Regions from separate parts of the Homo sapiens genome. Here all the other regions are linked to region 1. Evidence: fine-mapped QTL for protein levels in blood plasma. Region 1 holds a variant in brackets. A gene starts in each other region. All regions are shown on their forward strands. Region 1 holds the start of FPR3 (formyl peptide receptor 3). Region 2 holds the start of SMOC2 (SPARC related modular calcium binding 2). Region 3 holds the start of KLRD1 (killer cell lectin like receptor D1).

Evidence for each region. PIP is the chance, under the fine-mapping model, that this variant and not a neighbour inherited with it causes the effect. Protein levels are from antibody-based Olink assays in UK Biobank. Linkage for the fine-mapping came from a reference panel and not from the study's own genotypes, which makes the PIPs less certain.
Region 2: SMOC2 starts here. The variant in region 1 is fine-mapped to the plasma level of the SMOC2 protein (UK Biobank, PIP above 0.99).
Region 3: KLRD1 starts here. The variant in region 1 is fine-mapped to the plasma level of the KLRD1 protein (UK Biobank, PIP above 0.99).

The regions. Positions count from the first base shown.
Region 1 is chr19:51,792,699-51,798,980 of GRCh38, forward strand. FPR3 (formyl peptide receptor 3) reads left to right here and starts at 2,459. Exons shown (of 2, transcript NM_002030.5): 1 at 2,459-2,633. The variant G/A (reference allele first, on the strand shown) is at 2,374.
Region 2 is chr6:168,437,715-168,443,996 of GRCh38, forward strand. SMOC2 (SPARC related modular calcium binding 2) reads left to right here and starts at 3,470. Exons shown (of 13, transcript NM_001166412.2): 1 at 3,470-3,740. The coding sequence starts at 3,657.
Region 3 is chr12:10,303,930-10,310,211 of GRCh38, forward strand. It overlaps KLRD1 (killer cell lectin like receptor D1), which reads left to right and starts at 3,941. Exons shown (of 6, transcript NM_002262.5): 1 at 3,941-4,155; 2 at 5,459-5,551; 3 at 5,697-5,759. The coding sequence starts at 4,149.

The DNA of each region.
Region 1 (6,282 bases):
CGAGGGCAGTGGCATCATCATGGCTCACTGCAGCCTCAACTTCCCTGACAAAGCAGTCCTCCCACTTCACCTCCTGAGTAGCTGGAACTACAGGTCCACACCACCACACCCAGCTAATATTTTTTTGGTTTTAGAGATGGGGTCTCACTATGTTGCCCAGGCTGGTCTTGAACTCCTGAGCTCAAGCAATCTTCCTGTCTTGGCCTCCCCAAATTCTGGCATTACAGGCGTGAGCCACTGTCCCTGACCTTTATTTTTATGTATCGGTATTTTTGTTATTTCTTGGCCATTGATTGGTCTAGAGATGGCATGCTCTGGCAATGAAAGACAAGGAGAGGTCCTGAAGAGACTCTGGACAAGGTTTCCCTCTGTAATAAAATGGAAGAGGCATGTGAATGAGTCACATTTTCTGCCTGTCTCATGATTCTGGCTCGGGAGGGCCTGTTGATGCAATGTCCAGAACAGTGGCAGCCATTCTGTGGTCACTTTCAAGAAAGCCCTAGAAGAAAACCAATATGATGATGGAGTGGAAGGGTGACATTAAACTCAATTTTTGTTCAAACTCCAGATCTATCCCCTTCCAAAACTTTTTTTAATAATAAATTTCTCCATGGCTTATGTGCTTCATTGGTTTACTCTACCTTATCACTGAAAACATCCAGTGAATCAGAGAGAAAATAGAAAATAGTTGACTCTTGTTTTGTGGCTCTCCACTGTTTTTCATGGTTCTATTCCTTGGGCTTGAGAACAACATTCTGATGGTGTTTAAAAACTCAGAAAGAGCCCATCTCCTTAGATCAGTAGTCCATAGAGCATCTCCCTAGGGGCAGAAGGTTAGGGGGTTAATCTCGGCAATGGTGTGGAGTGTACAGTGTCTCTCATTTACCTTCCTTACCTCTCTACATGCTCCTAGTTACTGCTTCTCTTTGTAACTCTGAGGTATGAAATACCTCAAAGCATATTTGATTTTGTCACAGATTTCTGGCACAGGGCTCTTAAAACCCTTGGAATTCCCTGAGTGATAGGAGTATTATTTGTTATTCATAAACAGCCCCTTTTGATCATAGCTGAGTTTATGCTAAGGAGATCATGGCCTTAGGATGGGACTGGTCACCAGAAAGACCAAGGGATTAGAGGGTTGGAGCTGTCAGCCCCACCTACTGATCTCCAGGAAGGGGAGGCAGGGACTGGAGATTGAGTTCCATAAAAACTCTTGAACAATGAGATTTGATGAGCTTCCACATTGGTGAACACTCAGGAGTGCTGGGAGAGTGGCTGCCTGAAGAGAGCATGGAAGCTCCATGCACCACCCAACCCCTTCCCTGCCATATACCTGCCATATGCCTCTTTCCAATGGACTATTCCTGAGGTATATTCCTTATATAAAGCAACAGATGCAAACAAAGTGCTTTCCTGAGTTCTGTGTGCCATTCTAGCAATTTATTGGTGTCATTGGAACACCCAATTTATAGCCTGTCAGTCAGAAGTACAAGTAGCCACCTGGGACTTGCAACAGATGTCTGATCTGATCTGAGAACAGTTTGTGGGAGTGAGCCCTTTAGCTTTTCGGATCTGAGCTGAATCCAGGTAGACAGCATCATAACCGAATTTTTAATTGCAGGTGGCCCAGGTGGTGTCCCCAGAGAATTGGAGAATTTCTTGGTGTAGAGAAAAAGTATATTTGGTCAGAAGGATTGTGAAAGTAGAGAATCGAGTTTTTGTTTCACCGTGCATCTTTGTTTTTTTATTGTTTTTCCTCTCATTCTTCTCACCTTGGTAATTGTTTCTTTCATTTTCCTGAATCTCTGAAAAGAAAGGGCCTGGACTCTCAGATTTCTTGGCCTTTGATATTTGGAAGGATGAACTCCAGTCTCCCACAGAAGGCTAGAGGTGAAGGAACATTCAGACACATAAGTTTCCAAGATAAATCGTCTGAGAACATCTCCAAGGTGTCTTCTGGGAATGGTAAGAAACCCTGAGTTTGTGTCACTGGATTGATTCCAGCTCCATTGTCCCCGTGTCCTTCAACTAAGTCTCTGCTGAAGCCTGTTCTATAAAAACAGCAAGTAAGTGGTTTGGACTGACCTATTGTACTAGGTTCGACAAAGCAAACCAAATGGAGTCAGTCATACTAAAACTCCACATCACCAAACCAAAACTAATGTATCTGAACTTTTGAGAAATCAGGAGAGAGAGAAAATGGACAAATTCCTAAAACAGGCCAGTTTCAGTGGGCATGAACATGAAGTTCTGTCTGCTTTCATCTTTACAAAAAAAAAAAAAAAGCAATCTGTGGTAACTTGACTTCAATCAATCAGTTGTTCCTTATTGCTGTCTCTCTATTCCTGCTGCACAAAAAAAATGCAACATCCA[G/A]ATGACCAATCAGGTTTTTGTTCTCTGTTTCTGCTTTCTTTAGCCCTCCTATCCCTGTAAAACCAACTTCCTTGGCTCTAACTATCAAAACACTCATTTTGTTTTATAGCATGACAGGCTGTCTGATTCCATCTTTATAACCAAAGCCAATTAAGATCTTAAAACCAAACATATAACTTCATCTTTTTACAAGTACTTAGAGCCTGAGTTGCTCCACAGGAATCCAGGAACTGGGCACAGGAAAAGGATCTAAGCTGGTGGTAAGTTGGGGTCTGAAAATTTTAAAGTTATTGTTGAAATGCCTGCTATATGACAGAGCCCTTCTAACTCTGGAGTAGCGTAGTCCAGTGAAGAATCCACTTCGTTAGTATGAAAACAATGTTAACTATTTCATTAACAGTGTTTAATTTGGTTACATGTTCCAGTAACATTCTTTTTTTTTTTTTTTTTTTTTTTTTTTTTGATGGAGTCTTGCGCTGTCACCCAGGCTGGAGTGCAGTGGCACAATCTCAGCCCACTGCAACCTCTGCCTCCCAGGTTCAAGCGATTCTCCTGCCTCAGCCTCCTGAGTAGCTGGGATTACAGGCACCTGCCACCACGCCTGGCTAATTTTTTGTATTTTTAGTAGAGACGGGGTTTCAATATGTTGGCCAGGCTGGTCTTCAACTCCTGACCTCGTGATCTGCCCACCTCGGCCTCCCAAAGTGCTGGGATTACAGGCGTGAGCCAATGTGACTGGCCAATTCTTTATCATATATGTAATTAAATAAAATTTATTACTAAAATAATTTCCCCAAAGGTGTTTTACTTTTTTAAAAACAGTGGCTACAAAAAAATTTTGAGTCCCATATGTAGCTAAAGTTAACACATTATATTTCTACTGGACATGTAGCATTGTAGAGATGTAGCATTGAAGGATCTTGATAGTCCTGTGGAGCTTACGTACTAGTGTGGAGGGTATTTAAGAGAGAAGATAAATGAACAAACAAATAAAGGAGAAAAGTATCTGGTGAGATAGGCTGTACCTGAGCATTCTGCTTTGCAGAGTGGGTGAGGTGGGATCTCTCTGAAATAATATTTGACCTGAAATATGAATATTCAGGATGAGCCAGGTGCAGGAAGCTCAAGACGAAGAGCACGGTAGGCAGAAGGAATAGAGAAAGCAGAAGCCCTGAGATGACAAAGAGCTGCAAGTTCAAGGAATTAGAGCCCAGTGGGTGGAGCCCAGTGTGTCTGATGAGAGTGCAGAGATGAGGTCTGAGGGATGCACAGGGCACATGTGGCAGTGGATAAGGGAACCTAGGATAAGGGAACCTAAGATAAGGGTAACTTAGAAGTCTGGAAGCCATCGGAAGGTATTGCGAATAACATCACCATCTTATTGGACCTTTTTAAAGCTCATTTGGTTTCTGTCTGGAGAATGGATCTTAGGGGAGGGGGCAGCAGGACCAGGAAAAAGCTATTTGCAAGGCTTGTGCAAATATCCAAGCCTGACAGGGCCATGGACACCGGTCGTGGAGATGGCAATGGCTCTGGCTGTGCATTCAGCATGTTCTGTAGATAGAATGAGTAAGACGTGGATGGCGTTGGGTGGTGAGGAAAAGAGAAATGAAAGGTGAGTTCTAGATCTGGAGCTTTAACAACTGAATATTTAATCTCCAAATAGATACAGAATATTGGAAGAGTGGCAGGTCTGGGAGGCAGAGAACATCAACAGTTTGGTAAAACCATGTGAGGTTTGGAGTCTATGGGACTCCCACGGGGAGAGGTTTTATCAGACTTGAGTGCCAGGGAGAGGCCACGGCTGATAATTTAGATGAAAAGACAGCATAATGGTTTAATCCCAGAGACTGGATGATATCATTTATAGAATGTGAGATACCCCAACATTTAGAGTCAAATTTAGAATAGAAAACACCGTAAATTGGACTAAAAAGAGGAAGAGAATCGAGCTGTAGAGACGACCAAGAGTGTATTGTGTGCACATATCTCTTGGATATATCTCATGGCATAGGAAAAATGTGTTTGAAAAGGGAGAAAGTGATCCAATGGGTCCTGTGTCATTGGGATATCAGGTCTTAAAAACTGAGAAGGACTCACTGGATTTGGCAGCCTGGGGGTCATAAGCATCCTTGGGAAAATGCATTAGGTGGAGTGCTAAGGACAGAAGTCAATGTGGAGTGGATTAAGGAGAACAGCTGAGGCGAAGAAGGAAAAGGAAGAATTAGAGACATTCTCTTTGGATGTTTGGCTGGAAATTCTGTCTTACAGACAGACCTTACAGAGAGGTCATTTGGCTAGATAGGGTTGAAGCTGGAAAGAAATATGCTTCAAAGGAGGTTTCTCTTGAAAGAGAGGGGGCGTGATTATGTGATAGAATGATCTAGTAGAAATACAATTTTCAATTTTTTTGGTATAAAAAATGATCTTTTATCCCTCACCACATCCCACCTCAATCTAAGTCTTAACTTTCTCGTCTGTACAATGGTTATACAAATTAAAACTAACATTAATCAATATTCACCGTGTCTCAGGGTGTGTTGAGTGCTTACACATATTAACACATCCCATCCACAGAGCCTATGAGAGGAGTTGTGAGGGTTAAGGGAGAAGCTCTTGGTGTGTGGATAATGTTCATAAGTAGAAGCTACTATTGCTATAAGCATCGTTCTTGTCCTGACCCTGAGCTTCATAGTGCAGGGTTCGGGATTGTACCCCACAACACAACACACAGCCTGGTGAGGGCTAAGAGTTCTAATTTGTTACAGATTTACCGACCTATCCTAGATGATTTCCATGTCTATTCTTTTTTTTTTTTTTTTTTTTTTTGAGACGGAGTCTCGCTCTGTTGCCAAGCTGGAGTGTAGTGGTGCAATCTCAGCTCACTGCAACCTCTGCCTCCTGGGTTCAAGCGATTCCCCCACCTCAGCCTCCAGTCCATGTCTATTCTATTTAATCCTCCCCTGAAAATCAGTCTTTATCAAAAAACCATTTCAGTTCTGCAGAGGGGAAAATGGGGGCTCAAAGAGATGTCACTGATCAAGAATTTACACCATCGAGGTGTCAGAGATAAGATCAGAGTAGAGATCTAACTGACTCCAAAGCCTGGTACTCTTTACACTGTTACAGTGACACCCAACTGGCAGGGGGAGGGGGTGGGAGGTATTTTGCCTCCCAGGGGATCTTTGACAATGTCTTTTGGTTGTCACTCCTGAATGGGGAGTTGCTACTGGCATCTCTGGATAGCGGCCAGGGGTGCCGCTAAACATCCTACTGTGTACAGAACAGTCCACCACAACAAAGAATTAACCAGCCCAAAATGCCATTGGTGTCAAAGCTGAGAAACCCTGAGCTACACTAAACAATGTCCCTGGGAAGACCTCAGTGAAAGTGACTGATAATGATAGGAAAAAAGAAGGAAATGAGTAAAAGAAATAGGAGAAAAAATTTATTATACGAGGGCAGGACCCTATCCTGGTAATTTTGGAAGAACGCCTTTCAATGGCAGCACTTGAGCGTGCAAAGGTAGTGGCTCTGTTCGGTCTGGTTTACAAATCTTCCTGTCTCCACTGACTGGCTAGGTATGATGCTGAAAAAACTACAGGAGTCCCTGGGCCATGGATTCTCCCTAGTAAAAAAGGGATGATGATGGCTGCCTCACAGTGTTATTATGAGTATTAGATGTAAACAAGTGCTACATAATTGCTATCATTCTTAAAGAGGCTAAATAGCCCAGGGTGGGAAGATTCTCAGATTTTCATGATCATAGAAAATTGCTGTAGCTTGGCTGGGCGTGGTGGCTCACACCTGTAATCCCAGCACTTTGGGAGGCCGAGGAGTTCGAGACAGCCTGGCCAACATGGTGAAACCCCATCTCTACTAAAAATACAAAAAATTAGCCGGGCGTGG
Region 2 (6,282 bases), not on the chromosome of region 1:
TTGCAGTGAGCCGAGATTGCACCACTGCACTCCAGCCTGGGCAACAGAGCAAGACTCCATCTCAAAAAAAAAAAAAAAAAAGAAGAAACTTGTTTAATTATTTTGTTGAGCACAAAGTCCAAATTCTCTGTTACTTAAATATATCAAAATAGGAAGAAAGCCATTGAGTCAGGCCCAAGGATCAAACACACAACTCCACTGTCCACTTTTCAACGTGGTGTGTCAACGCTGGCCTCATCCTGCAGCCGCGGTGACGGTGAGCCTCGGCGGTGCTCTGTTCTGATTTTGTCAACTCTGCCGATGTGGTTTCCTTTCTATATGGCTCACAGGTTTGTGAAGCTGCAGAACTTGGGCTAAAAACCTGGGATTGATGTGGGGATCCTGCATCATTTTTCCGTAGGTTGAAGGGAACAAGTTAAAAGGAAGATGCAAGTCATCAGAATGAACAAGCCAACAAGAGGACAGAGACTCCAGAAACCTGGGGAACTACAGATTCTCGGGTCCAGCCTGGGGGTAGTCTAAAAGGAAAATCACACAGAACTTACCTAAGAAAGTCCAGGTGAACGGTGAAAACTCCTGCTCCCATGATTAAGTAGAAACTAGGAGAAAACATTAATAAGTGACTGGCAGGTGACTGATGATGTGGGGTGATTCTCAGAGTATGAACAGTGACCTGAGTTCAGTCCCAGATGATACTCAGAGTGATGGCAGAGGGGATTTCTGGAAGTCACTGCATCAACAAAGAGATATTTGACTAAACTTATGCTTGGCATATTGAGATGGGAAAATAGCTGACAAAAAGTTTTCTGGCTAAACATGAATTAGCCAGAAATAATAACTAAATTATATCATTTCTATAATGAAAATAAAATCCTTTTGCAGTTTTAGCATAGTAAAATAAATAAAAAGGAAGCCAATACTCATGATAAAGCATTTTGCTAATGGCCTAAGAGGGAAAGTTAGTTTAGAAATGTGAAAACAGCTGGAGTCTTTGGTAATTAGTTTCTCTTGCTGTTCTTTATTGTAACTTTCATCAGTGACAGGCATTTAAATTCTGAATGCATAAGCCACATTTTAGAATGGGCCCTGCATCACTTTTTAATTAAAAAAAAAAACAAAAAAACCTACATTTCCAAGAGAGGGGAACTTCTTCCTGCATCCTAGAGGAACTCTCTGGAAAGTATAGAGCTGATCACTTCCTGTCTTAACTTTGAACTGAGTGAATTACTTTTCTATCCTTTCTAACATGACAGCTCTCTGGCATTCCTGCCAGTAATAACTTTCTTGGAGACTTACAAATAAAAGACAGACATAACTCTTTCCCAGTGTTTTAAATAAATGTATTGTTTTTCTCCATAAAAATGGAACCTGATTATCTCTCCAAACTCCATTTCTAGAATTTTGAGAAACTAAAATTTGGCATTCAGGACACATGAGCTCCTCCAGATTTGAAAGGGGTTTCAAAGGCTCCAAACCTGCCTCATCTGTCAGAGTTTTGGACAAATGCATTTCATTTATCTTCCTAGAGTTCCCAGAGGATTCTGGAGTTGCTACATGAAAGACGTGTTGGGATTCTTGAATACAAGGCACGGAGGGCCAAGGATTTTCTTCTGTTCTCCATATTGCCAGAGGAAGTGACATGGATTTGCCAGTATTGCAGGTTTTAACATCTGCATTCTGTTTATGATTTTGTTGCTTAGGAGATCTGGCTAAGACATTTGGCCCCTTTGACTTTTGTTCCTCATCTGTAGAATGGGAATAATTAAGTCTGCTTCTTGTCTGCCATTCTTGCAGCGGACGATGGTGGATAAATGAACATGCTTTCAAACTTTTGAGTTCTGACGAGCAGTACTCTCAACAAAGTGGAAAGTGAAAAACAGGTTCTTTAGTAGCAAATACTTCTTAAAGGAAGTATGTCAGCTTCGAGTGTAAATTTTATTCTTTGGATAATCTTAGAATTAGTGGTATGTAGTGTTTATTTTCTTTTTACTTTAATTTTCACTGCAGTTCCCTAACAGTGATTCCTATTTACTTAATCATTTGCAGCTGCTCTGCTCACCTGTTTTTCTGGACCCAGGAGCAGTCCCTCAAGAGTTTTATTATAATTTCCTTCTAAGTCCTTAAACCAGGAGGAATGTGTTTAAGTGCTTAATAGATTCCCTGGGCTTTGGAATTTTAAGGAGAATTCTGAGAGTAGCCCTCCTTCAGGAAAAGGTGCATTTCTTTCCCGTCTTTCCGTGGCCCGACGGACATCACTTTCCTGATAAAATTGTGTGGGAAAGGTTGCAATAGCATTGCCTTTGCCTCAGCAGCCAGTCCCAGAACTTGCTGATACAGCCCCCTCCCCCAAAGTTCATAGCCAAAGCAGTGGGCTAGACATCGGATGAAACCTCAGATTTGGATTTTCTGTGTTTTGTGCTTTTCCCAATGCCCCTGACAAGTCAATTGATTCATTGTTCTTGAACAAATCTTCACTCTTCTGGCTTTCTGTGTGAGACAGAATTAGGGCTTTTTCCTGTAAAGTTATAAGCCAAGGCTAAACTATGTCAGCAATGTTGTCTGCAGTGGATATTATCCAGAGTCTGGGTGTGCAAAAATTTCCTGGTTTCCAACGTAGTCTTCGTGGGTGAGTTTACAACCTCCACAAGCCCTGTGCTCCCCGCACAAACACCTGAAATGCTTTGACAGAGCTGTTTAAAAACAGCCACATGTGTCTGTGAATGATGCCCAACCACATGCTCCCCCGACTTGAGAGGATCAAGGCTACAGCCCAGGTCAGACCCCGGATCTTTAGGACCTAAATTCCCCCATCCCTGCAGTGGATAACCCCGTGTAAAGATGCCAAAGGCGGGCTGCCCCCGGCGCAGCCTTTCCTGGACATGTGTTCCCAGCTGCCTTTGCTGGAGCGCCGCTGATCCTTCAGCACCTCTGAGAGGCAATGTTCTGGGCTGGACCAGGGGGCCTTAGAGGGCAGAGGTCAAGGAGAACCCCGGAGTCTGGGGACCGGCCAAGGCTTGGCGTTAACCTTTGTGGATGAAAAGTCCCGCTGGGCTGATCCTGCGCGGACCGGGCCTGGACCCTGGGGCGTGAGGAGGGCGCGGTGCGTCCCGTGGTTGTGCTTGGAAGCCCCCCGAGGGTGCGCGCGCGTGGGTATGAGTGCGTGCGTGTGCCTGGGTGTGCGTGTGTGTAAGTGTGCACGTGTGTGTGTGAGAGTGCGCGCGGGGAAGGAGGCACAGAGACAGCCCGGACAGGCCACTGCGCAGCCCTGGTGGCCCCCGCTCCACCTCTCGCTCCGCAGACCCGCGCCAGGGAGGCCTCTGGGCCGCAGCGGGCACCGGAGCGGAGCGGGCGCGGCAGCGGGCGCTGGGAGGTGGGGCTGGGGGAGGAGAGGGGGAGGGAGAGAGGCGGGCGGGAGGGGAGGATCCGGGAAGCTCCGGGGTATTTGACAGGAGCGAGGGCGGACGCAAAGAACGCGGAGGACCTCTGGGTGCCTGCAGGGGAGCTGCTCCAGCCGGGCCGCCGGGAGCGGTGGGGAGAGCATCGCGGAGCCGCCCCTCCACGCGCCCGCCCAGCCGCGCTCGCCCACTGGGCTCTCCCGGCTGCAGTGCCAGGGCGCAGGACGCGGCCGATCTCCCGCTCCCGCCACCTCCGCCACCATGCTGCTCCCCCAGCTCTGCTGGCTGCCGCTGCTCGCTGGGCTGCTCCCGCCGGTGCCCGCTCAGAAGTTCTCGGCGCTCACGGTAAGCCCGGGCCCGCGGGACCTGGAGCTCAAGTGGTGCCGCCTCTTGCAGCCGGCCGGGTTCGGGTCCCCGCGCCCCGCTCCAGGCCCAGGCGCCTGGGCACGGGGAGCAGGTGGCCCCGGGGGCCGTGGAGCCTTCGCCTGCCGGCGAGGCTGGAGCAGGTAGGACGCAGCGTGCGCGCCTGGGACCCGGCTGGGATGGGCTTCTGGGGACCCTGCCCGCCGGGGTCCTGCTGCGGCTGCGACGGGCTCCTCGGGTTCCACCCGGCTGGGACCCCACCTGCCTCGGGGGCTCTGACCCGGCTGTGAGAGGATCCTGGGGTCCTGCAGACCCCGGACAAGTGGGAGCTGCGGGTGCGCTCGGGTGTCCCGCACTCACTGCTGGGCCTGAGCCTGTGGGGAACCAGGTCTGGGAGCGCCGGCGCCGCCCCGCGGACTGTCCCAAGGCCAAGACAGACCCGCCGGGACTGGGCGCCCACCTCGCCCACGGGGACCCGGCCTGGAGCGTGTTCTCCCGACCGCTTTGGGCTCGTGCGCCGCGCGGATCCCGGGCCTCTCGCCGGCTGAAGGGGCTGCCAGTCGTGGGCCCCACTCGTGGGTCTGACTCTCCCAGAGACCCTCGTAAGTGAGCCGAGGAAGAAGCAGATGAGGTTACAGATGATTCTTCACGGGCCTGAGTGTTATTAGAGAAGCGCTTTCTTCCCTTCTCAGGACAGAACTGGAGGCAGGCGGCGGCTCCCCGCTCTGCGGGGCCTCTGGGTTCTTCCTCGTGGCAGGGATGCTGCGCTCCTGAGCGCGAGGGTCACCGCGGTTGACCGCTGTGTGTTTTTCTTTCTGAGCTGTAACTTCTATGCGACAGCCTTGGCCCGGCCAACGCACGCGGTGTCAAACGAGGAGCTATGTAGAGGGGGCTGAGCCAAGCCCCCGCCGGCCAAGCCAACCCGCGGCGGCCGCTGGGCCAAGGCCGGGTGTCTGCAGCCCCCAGCTCCAGCCGTCCTCCTGGGCTTGCAGGGTTTGCAAACCCATCATTAATGCAATCGCCAGAAACGAAAACATTCCACTTAAATGTGTTTTTGAACAAGTGTTTGAGAAAACACGAAGGTAGTGAGAACGCCTCTGGTGGACAGCCGTCTTTTTTAAGTGGCCGGGGACTTGTCCTAAAGGTGTTTATTGTATTGAAAATAAAGATGGTTGAAATAAGCTGTGGTCGGTTCTGCCTTTCAGCAAATTTAAAACAGTCATGTGGGCATCTTTTCTTTTTCTTTTTCTTTTTCTTCGTCTTCTTTCTTTTGCGTTTTAGCAGTGTGAAGGATGGTTTGTGAGTTCATTGCTCATACCTCAAATTCTTCTGCAGCAGCCCGGGGTCCCTGCCTTGTGTCTCACAAATGACTTGTAGATTAGAAACTGCTAACTGGGGCTCCAAGGAGGTTTTCACACACTCAGGCTTTCCCTGAAGATCCTTTATCTCCCCAGAGGGGGCCCTCAGAGGATACTCACTGGAGGCATTCATGTATATGCACATCTGTACATGCATCTAGACATAAATATACTCACGTATACACTCACAAAAAGACCCCCCACATACTCTTAAAGCACACTAGAGGAGACAGAGAAACTAAGGCCAATTCTCCAAAGGAGATCATAGCATTTTCTTCCAGGACTGTAGCAGCAGGTACCTACAGTTGCCACGGATTTTCAGATTTTCTGAAAGCGCAAAAAGTAGAGACTGCCATCTGCCTGCTGCCCTGTGTGTGTGGGGGGTGGGGTTGGGCCTGTTGGTCCCCCCTGGAAGAGCAGAATCAAGGTAGTTAGTAATTAGAACAGTTTAAGACTCGGCAGGTTTTCTTGTCTTCTCTCCCCTGTCTCATCTAACTATTTACTTGAACCCTCTCACCTTTTGCCCCCTTGAGGTTGCCCCAAGGATGTCTTGGGTTGCGGTGAGACCCGCTGCATGTGGGGTCTCTGTGCAGGAGCTGATACCCCACGTGGGCTTTGCCCTGTTGGCTGCATTCCCCAAGAACAGTTTGCCTGAAATTTACATTTGCAAATAAAATCAGTATCCCGAAGAAAAGATTAAAGCCATAACACATTTTGGCACACTTCTTCTCACCCCACCCCCAGTCTAGAAAATCAAGAAGTAGTTGAGTTACAAAGTAACTGAGGCAGGCCTGAAATCTGACTGGTCGCTGGGAGATGTGAGATGTGCAGGATTTTTCAGTGTGCTCATCTCTTTTCAAATTGCCTTCTGGTTTTTGGAAATCTCTTTTGTCTCCGGAGGCCCTCATTCAAAGAAGGGCCTTCTCTCCCTACGATTTGCATCCTACCTACTTTAATAAATCAAGAGGCAGTATCAGTCCATGCAGTGGGTGGGACCCACAGCTTAGGGTCTTGCTGGATGTGTGACTTCAGGCAAGTTACTTAATTTCATAATCTTCAGTCCCCTTATCTGTAAAATGAGAATACATAATCTCTTTCAAGCATGTGGTGAGGATTAAAGGTAGGGCTTTTAATGCGCCTACTATATGTGAGTTCTCCAGCTAACA
Region 3 (6,282 bases), not on the chromosome of region 1:
GAGGGGCAATGATAACTTGGGCTATAAGATGAAAGGCAAGGAGTGTTTGCTTCTATACATGTAATTGTATGTATATTTCTCATTATCTATGTGGACAAAACTTAACCAGTTCTTCAAGAAGGTAACATAAAGGATTGGATTGTCAAATCAGTATCACAAGCATCCTCAGAGATTTCACCCAGTATCATGCTTTACTCATAATTTCAGTTATACAATAATTGTGAGATGCAGACAAAACAGTGGAAAACCCAGGCCTGCAAAAGCACCCACTCATTCTTACTTTCCCCTTAGGACACACTCTGGCCCAGACAAACAGATAAACATATGAGGTCTCTTAATGGTGTTTGTGGCTGCACCGTTTACACAAAAGGAGATGTTTTGGTTATGACACATCTCCATTTTATACTCAGATGGTTACATGGTTATGGTTACACATAGCTTATGTGACATTTTTCCAGGAAGCCAGCCTCCATAAACCCACAGATTCTAGTTTTATGCTTTTTTTTTATATAGTGTGTTTTGCTCTTGTCACCCAGGCTGGAGTGCAATGGTGCGATCTCAGCTCATCAAGTTCAAGAGACTCTAATGCCTCAGCCTCCCAAGTAGCAGGGGTTACAGGTGAGTGCCACCATGCCCGACTAATTTTGTATTTTTAGTAGAGACAGGGTTTCTCCATGTTGGCCAGGCTGGCCTTGAACTCCTGACCTCAGGTGATCCACCTGCCTTGGCCTCCAAAAGAGCTGAGATTACAGGCGTGAGCCACTATGCCCAGCCTTAGTTTTATTTTTTTATTTGATTTTACCACTAACAATTTTAGACAATCTAATACATCCTGCTAAAATCATTCCATTGATAAGGATTTTGCAAGCAAAACACACTATATATAAGAAACCACTATAGCTAGTAGGTTTGTTATTAGCATGTTTACAATGAGATTTTACCAGGTCAGTAACGTCTTTTGTTTTTTCTCAGGGAGCCCTCTCTCTCTGTTAAAAGAATAATTTGCAGCCTGATGTGAGCAATTTTCTTTCCGCTCAAAGAATGCATTTTCTAAAAGCAGTGAGATCAAAATAAATTTTTCCCTTGGGGATACTAGAACGTATACTGTTATTTTGTTCTGCAACATTTTAGTTATACATTTTTAGGTAGGGAAAAGACTTCACTGTTTATATGTTAAGTGAACATTAGTTTCTTTTCCCTGGCTTTTGACTAAGGTTTAAAAGTTGACTTAGCTATTGAAGTCATCACTTGCTCTTACCAAGGGCACTAGTAAATTGCAGGGGAGGAAGAGGGCATCTTCCTGCAATGGATACTAGGGGATGGAAAGTCCTGCAAAGAGAGACGTTCTTTTGGCAGGATACCTAACTTTTCAAAAGCAAATTTATGTAAGTGAAGCTGGATATTTCAGCGGAATTTAGTCTGGTTTCTCTCGGCAGCACACTCAGAGAATACTTTGAGTAGAAACTTTATTTGGAATTGTGTATGCAATAAATGTAGGAAAGGAAATGTAATAGGAAAGGGAAAGTGGAACGCAATAAAGGTTATTTTCTTAATCTAGCTTCTAGAGGAGGTGACTGGAACATAACACTATTGAGTAATTCTGGGAACTGGGCAAAACACAATGTTCAGAATTACCTGACTTTAGGGCTGAGACTGCTGGACTGTATAGCAAATCACAAGATTCGTTTGTTGACGCCCATTCTGGTGATGATTATTCAGCACTTCCGGATTAGCATGTCTGAGAACAGCAAGGCTTTCAGCAGTTATTGGAGAAAAAAAGAACCCATAGATACAGCTATACAGATAACTAGTTGGCCATAGTTCCCCAAATATTCCAAGGGACATAGGCGAGGCAATGATAACTTCAGGAACAAGTGGAGATGAGTGGGAGAGATACAGTACATGGAAATCATTCACCTGTCTACGTACAAAAATAAATAGAAAGAACAGAGGCCGGGCACGGTGGCTCACGCCTGTAATCCCAGCACTTTGGGAGGCCGAGGCGGGCGGATCACGAGGTCAGGAGATCGAGACAATCCTGGCTAACACGGTGAAACCCCGTCTCTACTAAAAAAAAAAAATACAAAAAATTAGCTGGGCGTGGTGGCGGGAGCCTGTAGCCCCAGCTACTCGGTAGGCCGAGGCAGGAGAATGGCGTGAACACGGGAGGCGGAGCTTGCAGTGAGCCGAGTGAGCCACTGCACTCCAGCCTGGGTGACAGAGACTCCATCTCAAAAAACAAACAAACAAAAACAAACAAAAAAAGAACAATCAGAGTTGGCAGCTCAGAAAGAGTTAAAGAGGTATATACATATATGTTTACTGTGTGTGTGTATGTGTGTGTGTGTGTGTGTGTTTAGGTATCTTAAATATTTAAGCCTGGAGTTCTTGAAGTAAACTTGTATTTGTTGGATTTTTATTTCTAAGTCAGTGAACTAAGATGAAAAAAAGGACAATGACTGATGGACGTATTCTCACCAAACAGGGTTCTAAAAACTTAGAACCTCTAACTTCCAAATAAAGGTGGTTGTGTTAGTAATGAAAGTGTAGTAATAATCCCTATTGCACATTCTGTCATAAATTTGTACTCTCTCAAGAGAAAAACTAAAAGCAAACCCCTAATCTCCTATATTTTGAGGCAATTTTACATGGGGGAAAAATAGTATCAGACAGGTTTCTTCCAGACCAGCTTTTTCTAACACTAAAAATGAATAGATTTCAAGTAAGCAAAGGATTTTTAAATAAATCACTTCAACTAAGATTTGCATACAGTCTGGATGAAGTAGATTTTACGCTTATATTCTTCAGTGAGGATTTATAGCTCAACAAATTTGTTGGTGCAATGAAAGCAGCTCTAGGCACACAATGCAAACTGAAAAGATGGAAAGTTTTGACTTCATAAAAACTGAGAAGTCAAAGTAGTCTTTTCTTTCATTTTTTTCTGTTGTTGGTTGAAAGCCCATCTTTTACAAAAGGGTTTATCTATAGTAATATTATAATGCTTGAACATAAACAATATACAAAATATAATACACAAAACGTTTATTTGAGTGTCTGCTTTTGTATGGGGGTGCATGGTAGATTGTATTTCCAGATACTAAATCATGGATCGAAATCTCTCCTTTCAAGATTCTTATTATAGCCAATCTCTTCCACATTGGAAATTTGACCTGTTCCACATTTGATATTCCTATTAACAAGGTTACTCTTCTGTAGATGAAAAAGTGTATATCGAAGTATCAGTATAGTATCTGAATTAGATAACACACTAAACAATATAATAATGTATTAGTAAAAATAAGGAAAATAAAGAAGCTGAAGTCGTGCTTAAAGAACTTTAAGAAAATGAAAATTGAGGTGTTGAAAAAAGCTTTTAAGGCTAACGTGAATGAGGCGTCCAAGTGGGAAACCCATCCAGTTCTACTTTTTTGAACTTTGCCTGTCGTGGCCAGGATAATTAGGTAGAGATCAGAAGAACAGAGTGAGACATGGAAATCCCAATTTATGTGACCTTGGGCAAATTACTTAGCTCTGTATGCCTCAGTTTTCTCTTTGATAGATTGAAGATATTTATATATCTTTACTATCAAGCCATTTACAGAAATAAATGAGCTAAGATATGCCAAGTGCTTTAAATTGTGTTAAGTACAAGGTAAATAATAAATGTTTATTATTAAAAGAGGAAAATTCTGTAAGTAATTTTGTTATGCTAAGTAAATTTACCTTTGGTTTGCCCATCATTTCCTTCATTTTCCAGATAACCCTTTAAAATGAATTTGATTTTCAAACAATAAAAAACAAAACAGCAACAAAACTCCCTCTGACCTCCTCTCACCTTCTTTAGTCCTTGCCAAAGTGTTAATATTGCAAAAGTACTGTGAGAATTTCCTGTATTGTGGTTCCTGGAACACTTCAGAGGCTTGTGATTCTACTGCTTCTTATTCACACTATAATACATGTCTCACCAATAGATGATTCAAGAACATCATTTAAATACACAATTTTTCATTCTCTATTTTTGCTAAATTTCTTCATACTCAACTTTCAGATTCTTTAATCTCCAGCTCAGCTTCAACAATTCAACGCTGTTCTTTCTGAAAAAGTACACATCGTGCCTTCTCTACTTCGCTCTTGGAACATAATTTCTCATGGCAGGTATGTGTGATTTCAGTCACTAAATTAAAAATAACCAGAAAAGCTATTTCTTGGATTGGCTGATTTTGGGGTAATGCTTTAAGAGAAAAGGACATGATTAACAGTGGATGTTTTTAGGATTTTCATGCATTAGCACTTTCCACATTCATTATATTTTCCTGATTCTTCATTGTATAACTTAGACATGATTTCATGAAGTTTTTTCCACAGGTTTGAAGAGTGGTTTCTGACAGGGCTACCTTTAAATTCTGAGTGAGAACTGAACTTTAGCCTGGTTAAATTGTGAGCAACAGTGTTCTAGTATAGCAATAGAAAATGCCAAATATTAATGACACAATGCTGAAAAGGTTTTAATTGACTATTTATGTTGTGACATCCAAAAATTACACAAATGAACAGTTTGACACATTGTACTGTTGTTAATGACATCACTCTTTGAGAGTGTGTTCACGTTAGCACAGAATCTCCTAATGTTGAAATGTTTTAGGTGAAAGGCCTAAAAGCAAGTAATTTTGAGTATGAACAAATGGAATGTTCTAGGGGAAAAAGGATTGTTTATGTATGTTCAATATACTGTGAAATGAAGCCAGGCCTCAAAGTTGTTACCCATCAATTTGTTATCAGTTATCACACCAAGTCCAGAATGTTCCTATGTCTTCTTTTCCCTATAATATCTCTACGAACCAATGAGCAGCTAGACATTTATCAGAGCAAAACCTGCACTGAGATGAGGAGAGGGCATACTCTCAACTAGTATTATTGTGACAATGGTAGACTACGTTGAATGAAAGATTCTTGAGCTAGACACACTTTCATGTGATTTCTGACTTGGATACTTACTTGCTTTGATACCTTGAGAAAATAACATTATTATTGGACCTTATGTTTTCTCATCTATGTAATGAGAACCATACTATCTATCTTGTGATTTTGTTGAGAGAATAAAAATAAATGCCTGTTATGTAAGTCCATAAAACACAACGTGGTGCTTGTTAATATCTTCTACCTCCAGATCTTTAAGCACCTCTGCCAATTTAAAATAAATGGTAAATTCACTTTACTGCAACAGAGCTGGTAGAGAAGAAAATGTTTGAATAATCTTCCTGAAGAATAAGATACATCACATAAAAATGTTGGTATTGGGTGAAGTCCCGATTGGAAAGTCTTCAGTGTTTTATTGGCAAGATGACTCCGTTATCAAATGAAAGAATGTTGTGGATTCTCCGTCACTAGTTTCTGCTTTTAAGAACTCAGCTCCTGAGTTTGCTCTTTAAGTCATTACTCTGTCTGTCTTTCTCTACAGTGTTTAAGACCACTCTGTGGAGGTTAATTTCTGGGACCTTAGGGATAATATGCCTTTCGTTGATGTCTACGTTGGGAATTTTGTTGAAAAATTGTAAGTTTTTCTAAGCAAGTCTCCATAAAAATCAAAACTGTGAAGACATCATTTAATAATAAAGGCTTCATCTTGCTAATGTGTAATATTTTAGTATTTCATAAACCCATACCTAATTAAACAAATTTCTAATCATTTCTTATAGCTTTTACTAAACTGAGTATTGAGCCAGCATTTACTCCAGGACCCAACATAGAACTCCAGAAAGGTAGGTCACATTTTTTGGAAAACTTAGCATTGGTAAAAGATTAAATAGGCAGTTTCTTGTTTTTCACACAGAGAGGCATGATGGAATATTATACTTAGTAATAGAAATTTGCCTACCAGTGTAGGATAGTCTCATTTTACATTGCTCAATCTAATGTAAAAATGATTAAATTACACTGAATGTGTATCATTTGTACATTTAACTAATCAGGAAAATAGTAGCCTGAAACGAAAGATATGTTTCCTATATGAGTGCTCATAATTAAGTAACAAAAAATAAACCACAGGAAATGTTACAGTTAATCCTCATTACCTGCCTGAATTTGCTTATAACCTATACTTTTGCATCTCACTACTTTTCCTTTTCCAGAATATACTGCACAGATTTCTAAACCTTACTTATCCAGTGAAAGCCAGCTCAAAGTCCAATTTTCGTTTTTGGAGATGGAGTTTTGCTCTTGTCGTCCAGGCTGGAGTGCAGTGGCACGATCTTGGCTCACTGCCACATCAGCCTCCCTGGTTCA